Linked DNA regions of Homo sapiens. The protein of the gene in region 3 interacts with the protein of the main gene of each other region in a pairwise test. Each region holds a gene or a part of one and is shown on either strand. Other genes may lie near its edges.

Region 1 (7,026 bases), on a different chromosome or scaffold from region 3:
CTCTATCTCTGAGACTGTCTAGCCCTCCAGCTCTCCCTTTGTGTGATTAATGCATTCTCTTTCTTGAAGGCTCTGTTCAGGCATCACCTCCTCCAGGAACCCTGCTTCACACCCCTCTGAGAACTGGATTATATGCTGCAAAAGCCCCCTTAGAGCACTTACCTCTTTGGGTTAAAACGATTTGCTTGTTGTGGCTTCGTCATGAGCAAAGACAGCCGTCTCTGCCTCCTCCCTGCGCACACCTGCCTCACTCTGCTGCAGCCACGCTGACGTCCTTGCTGCTCCCATGGATGAACCAGGCATACTCCCTCCTGGACTCTACTCTTGCTACACTGCAGCTGGAAGGCTCTTCCCCCCTGACATCTTGTAGCTGGCTCATTGCTCTCCTCCTCTAGCACATTACTCAATTGTCACCTTCTTAGTTAGCTTCCCTCCTGTCTTAGTCCCTTCAGGCTGCTATATCAAAATACCATAGACTATGTGGCTTATAAACAACAGAAATCTATTTCTCACAGCTTTGGAGACCGTAAAGTCGAAGCTCAAAGTGCTGGCAGATTCTGTGTCTAATGAGGTCTCCTGATCTCTGGTTCACAGCTGGTGTCTTCTAGCTGTGTCCTTACATGGTGGAAGGGACCAGCTAGCTCCCTGGGGCCTCTTTTTTTAGGGCACTAATCCGGTTCATGGGGGGCTCCCCACTTCATGATCTAATCACACCCCCAAAGCCTCACCTCCTATTGTCATCACATTGGTATTAGGTTTCAAAATATTAATTTGGAGAGGACAGGGGCATTCAGACCACAGCACCTCCTGTTTAAAACTCCTAAACCCCAGCTAGCCCTGTTTATACTTCTCCATAAAACGTATCCCTTGACGTTGATGTTATTTACTTATCTGTTTTGTTTTATTTTGTTTTGTTTTTTGAGACAGAGTCTTGCTCTGTCACCCAGGCTAGAGTGCAGTGGCATGATCTCCGCTCACTGCAACCTCTGCCTCCCAGGTTCAAGTGATTCTCCTGCCTCAGCCTCCCAAGTAGCTGGGATTACAGGCGCCCGCCTCCGCGCCCGGTTAATTTTTGTATTTTTAGTAGAGACGGGGTTTCACCATCTTGGCCAGGCTGGTCTCAAACTCCTGACCTCATGATCCACCCATCTCGGCCTCCCAAAGTGCTGGGATTACAGGCGTGAGCCACCGTGCCTGGACTACTTATCTGTTTTGATTATTGATCTGTTTCCCTCATGAGAATAGATGAGTTATAGGTAATAATAAGCGGATCTAAGCTAAATGTTTTGAATAAATACCTACAAGCTATGCCAGGCTATCTTCGTGGGCTGCAGATCAACCATTTTGTCCATAAAACAGAAAATAGCATCTCCAGACAAGGGCTGGATGCAGTGTTTCTCACATGGCTTAGTCCCCTCTTCAAGGCTCTGCCTTCCCCCACTGGCATAAGCCACAGTATTTTCTTCTTAGAGAGTTCTGAGATCATGTAGTCAGGTGAGATAAATGATGCCTTTATTCTCCCCCAAACTGGTAATAAATCCATGTGGAATCCATTCTTTGGCACCTTTCAGAACTGTTAAAAATGGCATGGCCTTGCAGATACTTTAAAAGAGAAAAATAAGATTGTAATCTTTAACAATCTCTTTATTGCCCACAATGATCCTAATTTTTTTATTTTATGATATTTGATATTTTAATACGTATACTGTCTGTTATATATATTAATATATCATATTATATATTAGGCAATGTATTAATAAATCATTCTGTAAATATTCATTTTAGCACCTATGATATGTGAGGTATTGTGTTAGATACTCTAGGATTCAAGAGTGAGCAGAAGAAATACTGTCTCTGTCCCTCAGTAGCTTCCAGGGTGAAAGGAAGACAGATCATTAAGAAATATTGTAGGACCAGCCAGGTATCCTAGGGAACCTTGGGAAATTTCTCCAGAGAGATGGTTGAGACTAATTCGGTTTATTCAGCACTGTGGCTCTGTGGACATAAAAGGGCACCTGGGTACCATTAGGGTTGCAATGCTAAGCATAACAATATCGAAGTCATAAATATGATGTTGTCCCAGGTCTCTTAGGCCTGAGAAAGGTCATGCCTTTGTTCATCCCAGTCCTTCTTTCAGCAAATAGCTGCTGACCACCTACAGCTGTGAACAAGACAAGCGAGGTCCCTCCCTGACCTCTTGTTGCCTTTGGGTTGTCCTGGGGGTGTCCCTGCTGGAGCTGCCAAACAGCAAGACTTCAGCGGCCCTGCACCCGGATGCATCTGCTGCCTCACTGCCATGCTCACGAATGGAAGACATTCATCTTTGCCCAGCGGCTGGCGGGCAGGCTGCTACAACCTCCACTTAGTCTACCCCAGCTGCAGGCTGTAATGTTGGGGGAGCTGCCACATCCTGAAGGATGAAAAATAAATCACGCTTCTTCTGTCGTGTTCTATTTCTAGGCTTAGAAGAAAAGGGAGAAGAATTTGCTCGCATGCTTACAGAGCTTCTCTTTGAATTACATGTGGCGGCCACACCTGACAAACTCAATAAGGTCAGCACTGTCTGATTTATAGTTTCTGGTTAAAAAAAAACAGTGCAGGGGAGAGTCTCTGTTGTAAAGTTCCAGAGATGCACCTGAAATGGAAAACCCCCAAATCTTATGTGGCATAGTGCCGGGAGAGGAGTTTGAGGTCAGTAATTAAGATTTGAGGAGGGGCTGGGCACGTGGCTCACGCCTATAATCCCAGCACTTTGGGAGGCCAAGGCGGGTGGATCACCTGAGGTCAGGAGTTTGAGACCAGCCTGGCCAACATGGTGAAATTCCATCTCTACTAAAATACAAAAATTAGCCAAGTGCGGTGGCGCATGCCTGTAATCCCAGCTACTCGGGAGACTGAGGCAAGAGAATCGCTTGAACCCAGGAGGCCAAGGTTGCAGGGAGCTGAGATTGTGCCACAGCACTCCAGCCTAGGTGACAGAGTGAGACTCTCTCTCAAATTTTAAAAAAAGGAAAAAACGAAAAGATTTGAGGAGGCAACATAATGGAATGTGGTGGTGGAGAACATGCTAGACTGTGTCATGAGATCTGCATTTTAGTTGTAATTTTACTAGTAATTACCTTGTAACCTTGAATAAGTCACTTACCTTTTCATGGCAAAATAGAATGTTATGTCGGAGCAGTAGTTATCATCAGGTTAGGGCAGGGAAAAAGGGTGCAGAATCACCAAGAGGCTTTTTTCAAATTTCACCCCGCCCCCCTTCTAAAGAAACATGCCAGAATTAGGTAGAGAGAGGCACGTCAGCCAGGTAAACCCCACAGTTCCTCCCACCTGGAGCACAGGGGCTGCATCATGTCTAAGACCATTCCAGCTTTAACAATCTGGGTTCCTCTAATAATACCACAGTGTGTTTTGCAAGTTAGTACAAGGTCTTGCTGTGAAGTTTCTTTAGAGGCCATGATCATTAATTACTTAAAACTGCATGATGTTTTTCCATTCTCTCTCTCTCTCTTTCTTTCTTCTTTTTAGCAAGCAGTGGTTTACATAGGTACTCACTTATCCAGGTGGGTGAGGAAAAGGGCAGAATGAGGAGGTGAGATGAGTAATTTCTTTATCTCTGATGGGGGTCACTGATTCTGGCAGGTCAGTGACTTGAACACAGTGGGAAGTTGCCTCATTCATCTCCGTGCAGCATCTGCCACTGCTCAGAGGGGGCATGTGGTGGCTCTGAGATTCCACTGGCTTATTTGCTTAGGGTTAAATCTTTGTCTGTAATAGAGGACACACTGAGGACAGTTTTGCTGGGTTTTCTCTCCCCAGATCTTCTTGCTGTTAACTTACCATTCAACACTCTGATATTTTTAACTTTGGCGTGTAAGATTTAACGTGGGAAGTAAGTTTAGTGTAAGCCCCAAAACAACTTTTACTTAAGCAAACAGCTTAAACTATAATGATAAAATTGGAGTGAGTCTGCCCCTTCGTTCTAAATTCAGGGAATAACAGGCAGGGGAGGAGGTTTCTGATTGTTTAATTTAGCCATGATTTTGCAGGGCACAGAGTGCGTAAACTGCACTCATGTGAAATTAAACTAGACACAGAGCAGCACCAGACCTTTCCAGCAGCGCTTCTCTTCTCCCCCTTGAGGGTGGAAGACCTGTCATGAATCAAGAAACGCAGAGCCCTTCTTCACCTTCCCAGCATGATACATTGTTAGGTTCATGAAACATGAAGAGCTTCCTGAAATATATCAGATGAGGACATTTGCTGTAGCCGCGGCCCCATGGCTCAATTTCTAACACATATTTTTAAAAATACTATTATTCTTTTATAGATGGTCATGAAAAGTGAAAAATATACCATAGATTTTTCAATGTGACTGTCATTTTTATTCTTATCTGAATATCATTTTTAAATGCTTTTTGAAGAGTCCTCAGGCTTGCATTGTTCTTTCCATACCTTCTGTTCTGTCCCTCTTTTCTACTTTATATTTACCAGAAAGCAACAACAAGGTTATCTTTTTCGGGGGTTGAAAAATTGCCCCGTCATCCTCCAAACATACAGAGATCCATTCTTGAAGGCTTAGAGACACTTGATTCTAGTCTTGGGGTTGGAATGACTTAGTTTCCATATTTGCGCCATAAAAGGATTGTTTGGTTGGGGACCTCTGCAGGCCATGAAGAGGGCTCATGACTGGGTGGAAGAGGATCAAACCGTGGTGTCAGTAGATGTGGCAAAAGTGTCCGAAGAAGAAACAAAGAAGGAAGAAAAGGAAGAGAAATCTCAAGACCCTCAAGAAGACAAAAAGGAGGAAAAGAAAACTAAGACCATAGAGGTAAATTCATTCTAGATTGTCTGCCTACAAGGTAATAAGAGTGTGTTCATTTTATTAGCAGCTTAATTTTAATTGAGGAGAGGCCATTTCTTTTTCATTTGTTCCGTGTTATAGAAATATAAGTTTGAGACCAGCCTGGCCAACATGGTGAAACCCTGTCTCTAGTAAAAATACAAAATAATAATAATAATAATTAGCAGGGCGTGGTGGCGTGTGCCTGTACTCTCAGCTACTTGGGAGGCTGAGGTATGAGAATTGCTTAAACCTGGGCGGTGGAGGTTGCAGTGATTAGATCACTGTAAGGAAAAATATCCATTGAGCTCTGTTCATTCAGCCGGCCTTCCACACACCTTCTTTAGCACCTGCCTGTTTTGTACCCAGCATTGCTGTAAGCACTGGGGATGCAGCTGTGAACAGACCTGCCACATCCGTGGGGGCTTTACAGCCCTTCCTGGCAACATTACACTTAAAGTCTTAGATATGCTTGTAATCATCAGGTTAACTATTTCGGGTTATATTTGGGGTATTTTTGAAAGAATTATATCACTTCTAATGTCACAGCATTTTTTTAAAAAAGCATCTGCTCAGTAAAAAATTTCTTGCTTGTGTCTATTCATTTCAGGAAGTATACATGTCGTCCATTGAAAGTCTGGCGGAGGTAACAGCGCGCTGTATTGAGCAGCTTCATAAAGTAGCAGAATTAATTCTTCATGGACAAGAAGAGGAAAAACCAGCTCAGGACCAAGCAAAAGTTCTAATAAAGTAAGTAAATGTTACTTTAAATTCTTATTTTCCCAGTTTTATATATAGGTACCATTCAGATACACACATACACACCCACACCCTCTAAGCCACTAGAAGATTCAGGTTTCTTTTTGTTTGTTTTTGTTTTTTGTTTTGTTGAGACGGGATCTCACTCTGTCACCCAGACTGGAGTGCAATGGCATGATCATGACTCACTGCAGCCCCAAACTCCTGGGCTCACGTGACCCTCCTGCCTCAGTCTCCCCTGGAGTTGGGACCACAGGTGCGTGCCACCACATCCAGCTAATTTTTTAATTAATTGCAGAGACCAGGCCTGGCCACGTTGCCCAGGCTGGTCTCAAACTCCTGAGCTCAAGCAGTCCTCCTGCCTCAGCCTCCTAAAGTGCTACGATTACAGGCATGAGCCACCATACCTGGCCAAAGATTCAAATTTCAAGTCAACCAATTCCATTGTTCTACGGTCATCTTAAGAAATAAGGATTTTTTTTTTTTTTTGAGACAGAGTCTCGCTCTGTCACCAGGTTGGAGTACAGTGTCACGATCTCAACTCACTGCAACCTCCGCCTCCCAGGTTCAAGCGATTCTCCTGCCTCAGCCTCCCGAGTAGCTGGGATTACAGGTGCGCACCACCACATCCAGCTAATTTTTGTATTTTTAGTAGAGACGGGTTTTCACCATGTTGGCCAGGATGGTCTCCATCTCTTGACCTTGTGATCTGCCTGCCTCGGCCTCCCAAAGTGCTGGGATTACAGTCGTGAGCCACCACGCCTAGCCAGAAATAAGGATTTCTTTAGCAAGTGCATTATGTTAGCAAGAAGAAGACTTAACTAGCCATTCTAGGAATTATTTATGAAGAGATTTAAGGGAAAACACACTAAATCATTGCATGAGGCGTGAAAGTACTTATTTAATAGATCAAAGTCTTAGAAGTAAAACCTTTTGAGGGTAATTACATTTTCAACATATACATGAATAGAGAAAGGACACTTTAATGTAACTTCTAGCTAGATTCACAAAATAGGCAAATACACTCCACTGCTCCTGGGGACTTATACCAGGTCTCCACGTTCCAAACTCCAGTGATGACGGTCACTAATATTAACCAGTTCACTGTGGGTTGTATGTGTGCATGTATGTGTTGTCCTATATCATGTTCTTCAATAAATAATAGCTATTATCATTAGTTTATTAAGTAAAATTAAAATATATGTGTAACATATATGAATATGCAATCTAGTGAATATACATGAAAATAGTTGATATGGAGCATTCATGAAAATAGTTGGTATGGAGCTGAAAAATAAGCCTTTAACTTTTATGCACATGACTGTATACTGTGATGTGGAAAATTAACATAGGCCTAAGTACCCTCGTATTATTAGACAGACACAGGAGCCAAAATAGAGCCCCTGAAAATATCCAGGGATGGA
Region 2 (7,026 bases), on a different chromosome or scaffold from region 3:
TGGAAGCCTAAGGGGAGTGTGACATATTCTGAGGACATCCTCTGCAGGGGCGGGGAAAGGGAGAAGCAATTGATTTTGTAGCATGGGAATGGGTGGGAATGGGGAAGCTCCCCTCGTCTCTGGGAGAACTGGCCTCAGCCTCTTCCTACCCACCCCTTTCTGGAGCACCCATCCCAGCCCTCACAGGTCGCCTGGCTGATTGCTTGCTGAAAAGAGGGGGGCTCCCTCTCTACCAAGCCAGCTCTGTGCTAGGAAAGATGGGTGGTAGGCAGAGGAACCCTGAGAGGCTGAGGGCACTACGCTATCACCTCCAACAAAGGTGACCTCTCCATTCGTGGACCCTGAGACTCATGAGGGCAGGAACACATCTGTCTTATATCCCTGGCGCAGGTGAAGAGACGGAGCTCCGGGATAGTGAGAAACTTGCTCAAAACCACACAGTGAACCAGGGGCATATCTGGGGCGGGAGTTCATGTTGCCAGGCCCTGAGCCTGGCCCCTTCCTGGACACCATGCTGCAGCTATTTCTAGATTTCATGCCAAAGTACCAGGCCCTGCCGGCTGGGGCCCTCAGGCCTCCTGGGAAGACTGAGCCCTGGGGCCCTTCGCATGGCAGCCCTCAACCCCTCGCCTGACCCACAGCTGCTGCCCCTGCCCCAGGAAGGACCCGGTACCTCCATCCTGTTTCTGTTAAGTCAGGAGTCAGAAGCACCAGGCCCAGAGGCTGGTCTTCCCAATCAGCAGAGAGAAAGGAAGAGACCTCTGTCTGGCATTTGCCAGCCTGACCCCCGGAGTAGGAATGGGCTCAGAGATCCATTCAGGGTGCCCAGGAGGCAATCAGATAATCAGACCTTCCTATTAGCAAATCCTCTTCCTCCTCACAGCCTGGAGCCACCTGCCCTGGGCCAGCCCCTTTTCTTGCCAGCACCTGTCTGGCCTCCTTCTGCCCTCCCTGATCTGCCCCCGATGGAAGGGAACTGCCCTGGGTGCAAGTCCCCTAATGCCAACACTGCCGTTCGAACCCCTGTGGTGGGTGGCAGGCGGGCCCGGGAGGGAGGGTGGGGATGAGGTGGGTCAGGGAGAGGGAGGGATAAGAACCTTTCATCGGATTGGGAGCTGTGAGGTTCCGCGAGCAGATCATTGAGAGCATCGCGTGCAGTTTATCCTCCTCTTCCTCATCATCGTCCACCGAGGCCGCGCGGCTGGCCGCTAGGTGGTGGTAGTTAATAGTGACTGCTCAAAGAGAACAGCGAGAGGCAGAGGCATGAGGCCCTCATCCCTGGGCAGGACGGACTCCCTCCTTAAGGGGAGTGGAATGGAGGCCGGGGTCATCGTGAATCTGCAGGGCACAGAAGAGGGGAAGGGAGGGGACCAGAAAGCTCTTTGGATGATTTTCCTGGGAGAGTGTGGAAGGAGGCGAGGGGCTGGGGCAGCTGCAGAACCTCACTCTTCGGAGGCAGCCTCTCTAGGAAGAACAGAAGAGAGAGAACAGAGGTGGGAGGATGTGAAAGACCGGGACTGTCTGGGATGGGCTGGCAGCCCAGGAGGTCATCGGCCCTCACAGAGGCTGCGCATGACAGCTGGCAGATGGGTCCTGATCGTTCTCTAGCTCCTCTCAGGCTGGACCAAATCTGAAGATTACTCCAAATCCCCTTTTTCAGACTATAAATTCCACCTTCTTCCCTCCCAGGAAAAGGAAAGGGTTTTCCCAGAGCTGTCCTCAAGGAGCTGGAGTCGCTTGGTGGAGTTTCAGCCTCTGGGTGCCCTGGCTTGCCCTTGGCGAGGTGGTCCTGGAAGTGAAGTGACCAGGACTGGGAAATGGCAAAGATCGAAGAGGGGAGGCAGAGACTGGAGAAGCTAAACCAAGCAACAGCCTGAGACTAAGTGCCAAGTGTGTAAATACATTCTGGCCAAAGATGCGTCTCTTTGTCAGGTACATCTGGGAAGGGGGGACATCCCTGTGCCGTGTGCCCTCTGAGCCTGGTGGAGCTATCTGTGCTGTGGCTGAGTGTGCCGTCTGGGCAGTCCGGTCCCTAATACAGAGACAACTTGTTGACAACTTTTTGGCACAAGTTGGAAATTTAGGGAGCGGGTGGTCTTGTTAGCAATAAACGCTCTGGGCTGGCAAATTCCCCGACCTTATCTGTAAGAAAAGCAAGTCTGCCCAGAGAAGCCTATGGGCAGCAGCAGCACTCTGACCAGAAAGGGAACTTTGGTGTTGGTAGATGCACATAGACAGAGAGACCCCCTTGGGCCCAGGGGTGTGTGTCCAGGGTGGGGCAGGACCCACAAGGGCCAAGCCGCCTTTCTACCCGCCAGTGCCCAAAGCCCCCAGGCAGCCCCGAGTCTGCCTCTGATGCAACCTGCTACTTCAGCTAACGCTCATCAGTAGTTGGTTTGAGGAGGGCTCTGGCTCTAGGGGAGTCAGCAGACAATATTCACCATCCAAAAAGAAGCGCTGGGCCGGGCGCAGTGGTCACGCCTGTAACCCTAGCACTTTGGGAGGCTGAGGCAGGCAGATCACAAGGTCAGGAGTTTGAGACCAGCCTGGCCAATATGGTGAAACCCCATCTCTACTAAAAATACAAAAATTAGCCGGGCATGGAGGTGTGCGCCTGTAATCCCAGCTACTCAGGAGGCTGAGGTAGGAGGATCGCTTGAACCCAGGGGCAGAGGTTGCAGTGAGCTGAGATCACGCCATTAAACTCCAGCCTGGGTAAAAGAGCGAGACGTCGTCTCAAAAAAAAAAAAAAAAAAAAAGTAGCGCTGGTCCCATACCCAGGCTGTCTTGTAGGGGTTGGGGAGCAGGAGGTGAAGAGCAATGGAGGGTTCCCCACCTTCTACTTCTCGTTTCTCCACGTGTTTTACCCCTGGACAGGGTCTGAAAGGATAACTAAGAGTCTTGTGTAGTGACGCCTAGGTCTGCTGAGCCAAGAGTCCTGGCGTGGAGAAGTGGGGAAGGGAGCTGGGTAGAAGAGACGCACCTTTTCAAAGGCAATATCTGTGGGTAAAAGGTCCAGCTGAGAGGCTAGGCGATGAGCCTCTGGTGTTAACCTGGCCTGGTCAGTGGGCCCTGCCTGCTGCCCTCCTGGGTGACGCTGCGCTCCCCGCCTCCCAGAGCGTCTTCCTCTCCTCCCCCGGGATGAAGCTCGGGACACTCACTGTGCTCGTGCCTGTGGCCGGGGTAGATGATCCGGAACACATAGTCGGTGGCCCGCCCCGTGCCCATCTCCTCCATATCCACGGAGCGAATGCTGCTTCGTTTCCGTAGCTTGGGGAACACTTTCCCCTGTGGAAGGAGGGGTAGGTGGTCGGGCTGTATAGGGCAGAGTCTCATCCAGGGTTCCACACAAGGCCGCTCCTAAGAACTCCACGTGGGGAAGGAAGGGAGGCGGGCAGAGAACCCCACACACAGCCCTTCCCCTAAAGCCTCCCACCCGAGTTACCTTCCCTTGCTGGGTCCACAGCGGGGGCTCTAGCTGTCCCCGAGGCAGCAGCCCATTCTCCAGACAGGACAGAAAGGACAGCAGGTGTCCTCCCTGTGGGAAATGCAGCGGCGGCCTCTGGATGCCATCCTGGCTCACCAGCACAAGCGTGCCACCGCTCTCTGGGGGTGAACGTGGAGAGTGCGGCTGAGGCCCTCTCGTCGGCTATCACACCCTGCTGGCCAGTGCCCCCAGGCTGGGTAGGAGGCAGATGGCTGGGCTACAGCATGGCCTGGGAGCCCCATTAACAAGGATGGGAGGAGGACGAGGAGTCTTACAGGCCCCACGCACAGTGCACAGCTGGCAGAAGGCAGCCTCTCCCTTCCCACCCGAGCCGAGGACAAGGCAGGCTTACTTTGCTGGTGGCAGTGGATGCACACGACCTGGCTGAAGGGCACCACGAGGGCATAGTCCCAGTAAACGCTAGAAAGGAACCAGACTGCTGTCACTGTGTCCAAAGACCTGCCATCCTTCCTTCCTTCCTTGTCTCCTGGTCCTACCACCCCACGAAACTCCCCTGAAGATAGGATGACCATAGCCAAGAGGTGCACACAGCCAGCCATGACCCCTGAGATCTGTGCTGCCCGCTCGGCACATGGACAGCTGTCCGTCTCAGCCGCTGAGAGCTTGGCTCAGACAAACCTCTTCACGGCCAGGCTTGGCTCCGTCCTAGAGAGCTTGGGAATCACTCCAGGCAGCCGCTCCCTGCTATTCTTGGCGTCCAAATAAAGAGTGAGGTTGGCCTCCTGGAGCAAGCGGGGTTTCTCCATCCCTCTGCCTGAGGTCAAACCCACTCCCTGCCCTGGCTCCTGGGATTGAGTCCCAAAGCCCCCACCTCTTTTCCAGCTCGGAGTCCCCCAGAGTCCCATTCATGAGCTGGTTGGGGGTCCACTTCAGAGTCAGGCTCTCTGCAGACTGGTGCAGGGAGAGGTAGCCAGGGACCGCCTCCATATCCTCCTTCTACAGCGGGAGACACCGGAAGACCGACGATGAAGGGCTGAGAGGCTCTCAGGGATGGCCTATGAGAAATGAGCTCCCGCTGGGAGGAGGGGAGGCCAAGCTAGGCTAGTCACGGGGTCCTGGACTAGGGACGGGGCAGAAGCACAGGAAAACAGGACTCAGTTTCCCTGGTCAGCCTGGTGCCACTGACTCTCTCCTGCCAGCCTCCTGGATGCCAGGTCCATTCCAGGCCAGCCATACCCACACTGCGGACTCCCCTCGCCTGCTGGCTGCCATTCCTGTCCCCTGCCAACTAAAGGCTGGGCGTGAGTCGTGTGAAACAGGGAGTTGGGAGGCTGGGGCCATTCTCCCCCCCGTCTCTGGTCAAGCTCCTCAGGAAAGGAATAGCCATGGCTAGAGGCTTCCAGTCGTCTCGTTCGGGGACCTTCGGGGAGGGATGGCAGGATGAAGCTTTCCTACCGGCTGCACCAGCACGTGGTTCTTGCCATAGAGCAGCCGCGTCCGTGAGTTCTGGTGCAGGGACTCCACACACTCGCGGGCACAGGCAGCCAGCCTGTCCTCCGACGCGCTGCCGCTTGAGTGCCGTTTCCGGATCTGTGTGGAAGGCCGGGGCTCAGCCTCCAGCCTTGGGAAACTGGCCTCAAGGCTTGGGAACCCTCACGCTTCCATGCTGACCCTCTCCAGCTGACCCCAGGGGTCCTTCCTGCCCCGGTTTACTCCCAGCCACCCTCTGCTCTCCAGCCACGGACCAGCATGGGCTCCCGGCATTTGTGTTAAGTTTTATTGTGCGGAGAAGGCTCTTCTGAGGCAGCCGCTACCTTGGGGCATCTCCAAGGCCTGTCCCGTAGAGAGGCCGGTTTCCCGTCCCTACAGGCCCATGGGCATAGCCCAGATGAGCCCAAAGGGTGGGGAGGGGGCACCTACCCCCAGGGCTGGGCGCTTTGCAGGGGAGTCCTGGCGAGTAGGTGGACCCCGGATGCGGTGCCGCTGGACCAGCTCATCAGCAGAGGGGTCAGTCCAGTAGTGATCGGCTGTCTTGAGCTTAGTGTATTCCAAGGCACAGGGTCCCACTGTGGAGACAGAGACAGCCAGCCCAGACGATGCTCCCTCAGCACCTGCCCCGTACCCACTGTGCCTGTGCTCTCAGGCTCACCTAGAAGAGAGGCCAGGATCGGGCCGAACACAGGGTCTGCCAGCAGTGCCTCCTTCTCGTAGTACTTGCTGCCAGGAGACAGACAGTGTGACTGCCGAGGCTCCGGGGCTCATTCCAGGGCAGTCAAGCTCACCAGGTAGGGACATCCCCACAAAGACCAGATTCAGATCAGTCATCAAGAAACAGTGAGTCCTTAGGGACTGGGCTTCGTGAGGTGCCTGGTATGGCCAATGCCTTGAGGGCACCGAAGGGGACGGGGAGATGGAGGGTTGCCTACAGGCTGTCACGGACAGGCAAGCATCCTGAGGGCTGGGGCTGAGGGACGTCGGGAGACGGGTCAAGGGAGGGGCTGCTTGGGGAACGAGGCGGTCACCTGCAGTTTTTGGGGAACGGGGCGGTCACCTGCAGTTTTTGGGGAACGGGGCGGTCACCTGCAGTTTTTGGGGAACGGGGCGGTCACCTGCAGTTTTTGGGAACGGGGCGGTCACCTGCAGTTTTGGGGGGAACGGGGCGGTCACCTGCAGTTTTTGGGGAACGGGGCGGTCACCTGCAGTTTTTGGGGAACGGGGCGGTCACCTGCAGTTTTGGGGGGAACGGGGTGGTCACCTGCAGTTTTTGGGGAACGGGGCGGTCACCTGCAGTTTTCCGCCAGGTATTGCACGACCTTGTCCAGAACTTTCTCGATGAGCGCCGTGCGTACCCATACGTGTTTCAAGGCCTGAGGGCTGAGGGCCGGGGCCTTCCCGCTGGCTGAGCCCTGTCTCCGCAGGGCCTCCTGGCTGACCCCTGAGGGTTTCCTGCAAAGGCGGGGAGGGCTCCAGGAGTGCAGTGGTCTAGGGGTAAACCCCAGAATGCTGGCATTGGGAGTGGGGCTTGGTACCCCAAGATGGGAGCACAGAGAACTGACTGGGGTTGGGAGGTGAAGGAGGGGTACAGAGCCTTGTGCCCACAAGGAACCAATCCCCTCCCTCAAGCTGATCCCTCACCCAGAGGCCCTGCAAGGAACAGGCCCAGGATGCCAACTTTCCGATGGGTGTCCTAGGAAGTAGCAATTGCCAAGTGGGAAGAGCTGAAAGGAGGGAAGAAGGGGCTGGCCCAGGGCTCACCTGCCCTCTGCTTGTTGCTGCAGCTCCTGTACCTTGTGGCAAATCTCCCCCGCCACTGGGCACGTCTTCCCCACCTTGGTGAACAGGGCTGCCATCTTGTCACTGCGCAGGAAGCCAGCGGCACGGCGTCTCAGCTGATGCAAGAGGCAAGCCTCCACTGCACCTAGGCCACAAAGGGAAACGGCATCTGAGCCTGGGAAAGACGGGGGAGCAGGAAGAAAAGCTCCTCTTCCCCATACCTGTGGTGAGGCAAGGGGTAAGGGCAAGCCAAGGGCAGGCCAGGGAGATACCCTGGCTTCCTTCCAAAATTCCCCTCCCCGTCC
Region 3 (7,026 bases):
TTAAAATCAGTAATGTGAGATCCACTTTGATTTTTTAAAAAGTCAGGGTCAAAAACATGCATCTTAGAATGAAGGAAATCACCTAATTTTTCTGTTTCCCTGTTTCCGTAACCTATAACCTTCTCTCAGTATGTGGGATAAAATGAGGATAAATGTGAAAGTACTTTGATTTCTCAAAGGAAAGGAACAATGCACATTTTTCCTTTTCAGAATTCCCTCTTTAATAGAAGAGGTTTTAAAAACTTTTACATGATCATGATGATACTATTGAGCTGTTTTCTTACTGTAAGACTAAATGCAGTTAAAATGTAGCTTTAAATTTTTTCCTTGTTCCTGTCTTGTTTCTGAATCATTTAGTAAAATGTGTCATTTAAATCTAGATGTAAAGTGGAAAGTGGTTTTTAATAAGCAGTTAATTATCAAGCATGGAGAGAAAAAATACGAATCTATAGTAATTTTTCTTCTGAAATTCTAGCATCTGCCAACCATTTTAACCTTATCACTAACCCTCCCTGCTGCTCAACGCTCAGCAAGGTAAACAAAGGCACAGGTTTGGTTGTGTTCTTATTTCTGCTAATATCTGAAGCACTCCTTCTTGTTCTTCCCTATCAAAAAAAGTTATGTCAAAAATTTTTGTCACCTGGCCAACTCCTTTTTATCCATTCTTTTGAGAGTTTAACAAATCCTACCACTCCCTGTTGCATTTTATGCTGGTCCCCTCCTCTCTTCCCTCATTCTGTTTCCCTTCTCTTCAGTCCCAGTCCCACTTACATTTTATTTTTTATTTTTCACTCTTATGTATATACCCACCACTTCCATTTTATTTTATTTTACTTATATTATTTATCTATCTATTGAGACATGATCTCTGTTGCCCAGGCAGGAGTGCAGTGGCACTATCACGGCTCACTCACTACAGCTTCAGTCTCCTGGGCCTAAGCAATCCTCCCACCTAAGTCTTCCAAGTAGCTGGGAACACAGGCACATGCCACCATGCCTGGCTAATTTTTAAATTTTTGTAGAGATGGGCTCTCACTGTGTTGCTCAGGCTGGTCTCAAACTCCTGGGCTTAAGCCATCCTCCCACTTCAGCCTCCCAAAGTGCCAGATTACAAGCACAAGCCACAGCTCTCAGCCCCACTTGCATTTTAAATTATCTTTTTAGTTAGGAAGGTCTTTGCCTTTGTCTTAGATGCCAGGGTACACCATTGAGTGTCAGATTTATTTAATAGTTAAGTGGATGGATCCTTGAGGGGAGGCACTAGGTGATGTTTCAGCTGAAATTAGAATGATGAGTAGGCACCGCCAGAGTGGGCATGGGGGAATGTCTGGTATGTAGTTGAAAGTTTATTTCTGGCTCAGGAGAGAGTAATCTGGGATAGAGACTTGGGAGCTAATAACATAAAATGGAGTCCCTATTACCTGAGAGTTCATTTTCTGAGCTTTTGAAATTACAAGGTTATGTAGGGAAGAAAAATTCTCATGATATGAAAATAATTATTAATAAGTTATCACCTTAAAAAATTAACTACTCAAGCTTACTTCTAATTCCCATCCTCCTGATTGGCGTAGGGGCTTGCTGATCATAATATAGTTCAAATTAGTTGCAAAGTGAAATTATGTATCATGCTAAAATTGCAAGCATTTGTTTCTTTTTTTTGAGATGGAGTTTTGCTCTTGTCACCCAGGCTGGAGTGCAGTGGCGCCATCTGGGTTCACTGCAACCTCCACCTCTTAGGTTCAAGCGATTCTCCTGCCTCAGCCTCCCCAGTAGCTGGGATTACAGGCGTCTGCCCCCACGCCCAGCTGATTTTTGTATTTTTAGTAGAGATGGAGTTTTGCCATGTTGGTCTGACTGGGTCTCGAACTCCTGACCTCAGGTGGTCCACTCACCTCGGCCTCCTTAAGTGCTGGGATTACAGGTGTGAGCCACCGCGGCAAGGCAGCATTTGTTTCTTTGATGCAAGTGATTTGGAGCATTGGTTCACATGCAAAACCATTGACAAATGGGGATCTGACAAAGTTGTCCTCCTGGAATGAAGTAGGTGGTGATTGTTCATTGAATGAATTGACAGATGAAAGCTTGGATGTAATGGTGGGAAATACTAGTGTTCATGGGGCACATGGGGAAAGTTATCAGCATAGTAGGCTAACAAGGAATAATCAAAAGAGCAAGAGAGACCTGGGCAGTACAGTGTCATGGAATCTGCAGAGAAGGCAGATCCCAGAGAGGGAGTGGTTACCAGTGTCATGTGCAGTAGAGGTCAGGGACTATTGGTTGAAATGGTAGGAAGACATTAGTGCTTTGACACAGTGTTTGATTCAGATGTCAGTGAGGGGGAGAACTAAGGTGTATTTTCATTTATGTTGTTAAAAAACTGTGGATTTTTATATATGTGTAAATAAAAAAAGTCCCAAGACTACACACTTAACCGTTACTTCTGGGGAGGAGAGTAGAATTATATGCTTATATTGATTACACTGAAAGAGTTGGTGTTGGTGAAATGGGGCTTTTTATATTGTAGGGTCCTCCTACTTTCTTTTTTAAAAAAAAATTTAAACAATATCACACATAGTATTGGTGGTTTTACAAAAAGAGTTATTGGGAAGTTACAAGTAGAACCATGCATGGGTTATTTTATTGAAGAATAAATGTGAGTGTGTGTTTGTATTTTAAGATAGGAGAGACTTGAGGTTGAAAGGTTAAATACAAGAGAAGGGGAGGTAAGGAGCAAAGTTGTAGAGGATTTGGGGAAGGATTGGGGAAGGAAGGGGATTAGATTCTCAATAGCTCTAGAGAAAAACAGAAGGAAGACCTCTTCCTGTGGGAGACTCAAATTTGAGTTTCTTTAGATTCTTGTGAATCACTGGAGTGTTTGTTTAAAAAAAAAAATATTCAGCAGCCCAACCCCTAGAGATTTTGATTGACTAGATTTGAGGTGGAGCTGAATGTTGCAAAACCTGCGGCCAGAAGTACTAGTCATTTTATTTTATTATATAAGCAGATTTGTTAGAATTACCTTCAAAAAACAACCTGGGAAGTTCAGAGGTAGAAAAATTCTATTAAAGCTTTTTTATTGAGATGTAGCATGCATATAAAAGAATATATAAAATACATATACACAGTTTAATAGTTTTAAAGAATAATGATAAACACCCATGCAAAAGGACTCCACATTCTTTTTCTTTTTTTTTTTTTCTTGAGACAGTCTCGCTGTCACCCAGGCTGGAGTGCAGTGGCGCAATCTCAGCTCACTGCAACTTCTGCCTCCTGGATTCACGCCATTCTCCTGCCTCAGCCTCCCGAATAGCTGGGACTACAGGCGCCCGCCACCACGCCCGGCTAATTTTTTGTATTTTTAGTGAAGACGGGCTTTCACTGTGTTAGCCAGGATTGTCTTGATCTCCTGACCTCGTGATCCGCCCGCCTCTGCCTCCCAAAATGCTGGGATTACAGGCATGAGCCACCACGCCCGGCCAAGGACTCCACATTCTTACATATGTCTCTTTCTCAACCAGTTTTCCACTGGCCTGAATTTTATATTAATCCTCCCCTGCTTTTCTTCATAGTTGTATCACTTATGGATTCCTAAACTGTATTATTTAGTTTTGCCCATTTTTAGATGTGCTTAGCTGTTTCATTTATCAAATGAGAGCTGAAACATATCTTTTAACATCATTTACAATTTAGATGATATACTTTTGTTAACCTTCATTTTTTTTTTTTTTTTTGAGACAAGTCTCGCTTTGTCGCCCAGGCTAGAGTGCAGTGGCGCGATCTCGGCTCACTGCAAGCTCCGTCTCCCGGGTTCACACCATTCTCCTGCCTCAGCCTCCCAAGTAGCTGGGACTACAGGCGCCCATGACCATGCCTGGCTAATTTTTTGTGTTTTTAGTAGAGACGGGGTTTCACCATGTTAGCCAGGATAGTCTCGATCTCCTGACCTCGTGATCCGCCTGCCTCGGCCTCCAAATTTTTGCTTTATATATATTATTGGTAGTCTTTCAGGATTTTTGACTAGCTCTTTTCTGTCTGTTTTCTAACCCAGTTTATTTACTACTTCCTCCCCCTAATATTTATACCGTGCCTGAGACTTTATAGTGAATCATAGAGGCTATTGTCCCTGTTGTTCTCATTCCTTTTTACCTTTCTTAAACTCCTCTGGTGACTCTCCCTACTCATCTTCTCAATTGGTGTTCTGTCCTTTCTGTCCCATGCCATTCCTGTCCAGCATGAAAGTTTCTCTTTTATCTCCCCAACTGCTTCCCTCCTTCATTTTAATTCTTCAGCTCTCCTCCTCTTGCAGTAGCCAGTCAGTTTGATGTTTTATTTGAGCAGACCCTAATTTTGCCATCTCAGCTGTTTTTCCCTTTCCTTCTGGCCCAGCTGTGCTTACTTCATTTGTTATTCTCTGCTCACTTTAGTCTATGAGGCTGTGTCCTTTGCTACAAAAGATGCAGCCATATGCAGACCTCTCTTGTCCCTCTCCTAACTTTACATTTTCTAAAAGAAACTGTCCCATTTGATTTCATTAGCCTTGATTATTTGCAAGTTTTAAAATACTCTAGTTTTAGCTGTTACTTTTCACTTGTAAGTAAGAGATCCCTGGCAAAAAGGTTCTAGATTCTCTCTCCTGTAATGCACACATAGTAGCCCCCTTTTAATTTCTGCAGTGTTTCTTAACTCAAACTATTAATATTTGGTTCTCATCCATGGAAATGCTGTTTTAGTCACTCTCCGGGGAGTCCCAGACATCAGTATTTTTAAAAAGTATTGTTTGTATTGATGGTAGTACTGTAACATTCCACTGCTGGTAAGCCATGGGCCTTTTTTGCTTATTTTTCTAAAATTGATTCTTCTTTTTCTGCTGCCAAGTTTTCTGCTTTGGGGGATTTTATTTAATCCCTAAGGTGTAGCCAGACTGAATTTGTATGGAATTCTCCATCACATTAGCTTTTGGCATTGTGGTCTGTATAGCAGATTCTCATGAGTAATCCTCCACACTTTTTATAGTTCCTACACCATATCAAAAGCTTATTATCTGTTAATTCTTCAACAGATACATGAGATTACTGTTTTACAGATGGAGAAACTGAGTTGTGTCATTTGGGGCAAATTATCTTAGTAGATGGTTGATCTGGTTTGGCTCTGTGTCCCACTCGAATCTCATCTCAAATTTTAATTTCTGTAGTCCCCACGTGTTGAGGGAGGGATCCCATGGAAGGTGATTGGATCATGGGGTCAGTTTCCCCCATGCTGATCTGGTGATAGTGAGTGCTCATGAGATCTGATGGTTTTATAAGTGTTTGACAGTTCCTCATTCATACTCTGTTTTTCTCCTGCCGCCACGTAATATGTGCCTGCTTCCCCTTCTGCCATGATTATAAGTTTTCTGAGGCCTCCCCAGCCATGCAGAACTGTGAGTCAATTAAGCCTCTTTATAAATTACCCAGTCTCGGGTAGTATCTTTATAGCAGTGTGAAAACGAACGAATACAGTGGTAGAACAAAGATCTAGGGGTGTCTGACTCCACGGGCCATTCTCTTGATTACAGGGTGGTCTGGCTCCATTCCCCTTTGCTCTTTCTTTCCCCATATCTTCTGAGTTTTTACTTTTCATAGCCATAATGTAGCTTTAGGTTTCTCCCAGTTCTCACTTTAAAATATTCTCATTTTCAGGTATAGCTGAGAGTCACTGTGTTTTTAGCCAAATCTAAGGGAGAAAATGAATATTGATAGCAGCATGCTGTAGCCAGCTCCTTAAAGGAAGGATGGTGCCTGGTACAGAGTTAGAGTTAGTGCTTCAGTAAATAATGAATGTGTGCTAGGTAGGTTCTGCTGGGTAGGCTGCATGCATTGACCAATTTATTCCTCCTTGTTTCAAAACAGGATTTAAGGGCACTTATATATATATATTTTTTAGTTTTTTTAATGTAAATGAGAGAATAAAGATATATATATATGTCTATATATGTATATATGTATATATATGTCTATATGTCTATATGTATATATGTCTATATGTATATATGTGTGTGTGTACATATATATATATATATATATATATATATATATATATAAGTTTTCTGTTGCTAGCATAACAAACTACCAGAAACTTAGCAACTGAAACAACATGAATTTATCTTACGGTTCTATAGTTCAGAAGTCTAACGTGTCACTGGGATGAAATCCAGGTTTCAACAGGACTGGGTTCCCTTCTAGCTCATTCAGCTACCTGGCTCATTCAGGTTGTTGGCAGAATATACTTCCATGAAACTGTAGGGCTGAGACCCCGTTTCCTTCCTGGCTATCATCTGAGAGCTTTTCCCGACTTCTAGAGTCCACCCACCTACCCACATCCCTTGGCCCATGGCCCCCTTCCTCCATCTTCACAACCAACAACAGTGGGTCACGTCCTTCTTGTGTCTCATCTTTCTTGTTGGGCCATCCCAAGTCTCTCTGTTTTAGGAAAGGTTTTCCACTTTTAAGGACTCATGTGATTAGATTGGGCTTACCTGGATAATACATGCTAATCTCCCCATCTCAAGGTCTAATCTTAATCAAATCTACAAAATCCCCTTTGCCATGCTAGGGTAAAATATTCACAGGTTCTGGGGATTAGGATGTTAATATCTTTTGGAGGGCATTTTTCCGCTTACCATAAAGGCCTGCATTAGTCCATTCTCACACTGCTATAAAGAACTACCTGAGGCCAGGCATGATGGTTCACGCCTGTAATCCTAGCACTTTGGAGGCTGAGGCGGGTGGATTGCTTGCGCTGAGGAGTTCGAGACCAGCCTGGGCAACACGGTGAAACCCCATCTCTACTAAAATACAAAAAATTAGCCAGGCGTGGCGGCATGCGCCTGTAATCCCAGCTACTTGGGAGGCTGAGATGAGAGCATCATTTGAACCCGGGAGGGAGAGGTTGCAGTGAGCTGAGATGGCACCATTGCACTCCAGCCTGGGCGACAGTGCGAGACTCCATCTCAAAAAAAAAAAAAAAAAAAGAAGTACTTGGGACTGG

The links.
Region 1: the proteins of RAB2A (region 3) and FAM114A1 interact in binary tests that used the Homo sapiens proteins (3 or more experiments, as listed by UniProt).
Region 2: the proteins of RAB2A (region 3) and SGSM2 interact in a two-hybrid assay, tested with the Homo sapiens proteins (one study listed by BioGRID).

What each region holds. Positions count from the first base shown.
Region 1 is NC_000004.12:38,926,782-38,933,807, forward strand, and holds part of FAM114A1 (protein NOXP20), read left to right. Parts: intron 1-69; coding exon of another isoform or gene 70-395; exon of another isoform or gene 396-1,553; intron 1,554-2,460; coding exon 2,461-2,552; intron 2,553-4,669; coding exon 4,670-4,831; intron 4,832-5,453; coding exon 5,454-5,593; intron 5,594-7,026. UniProt on the Homo sapiens protein: May play a role in neuronal cell development.
Region 2 is NC_000017.11:2,361,477-2,368,502, reverse strand, and holds part of SGSM2 (small G protein signaling modulator 2), read right to left. Parts: intron 6,867-7,026; coding exon 6,704-6,866; intron 6,395-6,703; coding exon 6,233-6,394; intron 5,666-6,232; coding exon 5,598-5,665; coding exon of another isoform or gene 5,515-5,597; coding exon 5,369-5,514; intron 5,039-5,368; coding exon 4,904-5,038; intron 4,504-4,903; coding exon of another isoform or gene 4,445-4,503; coding exon 4,320-4,444; intron 3,908-4,319; coding exon 3,840-3,907; intron 3,607-3,839; coding exon 3,446-3,606; intron 3,289-3,445; coding exon 3,162-3,288; intron 3,001-3,161; coding exon of another isoform or gene 2,864-3,000; exon of another isoform or gene 2,837-2,863; intron 2,129-2,836; exon of another isoform or gene 1,690-2,128; intron 1,465-1,689; coding exon of another isoform or gene 1,443-1,464; exon of another isoform or gene 1,347-1,442; intron 1,339-1,346; coding exon of another isoform or gene 1,273-1,338; exon of another isoform or gene 1,239-1,272; intron 1,233-1,238; coding exon 1,098-1,232; intron 1-1,097.
Region 3 is NC_000008.11:60,519,979-60,527,004, forward strand, and holds part of RAB2A (ras-related protein Rab-2A), read left to right. Parts: intron 1-7,026.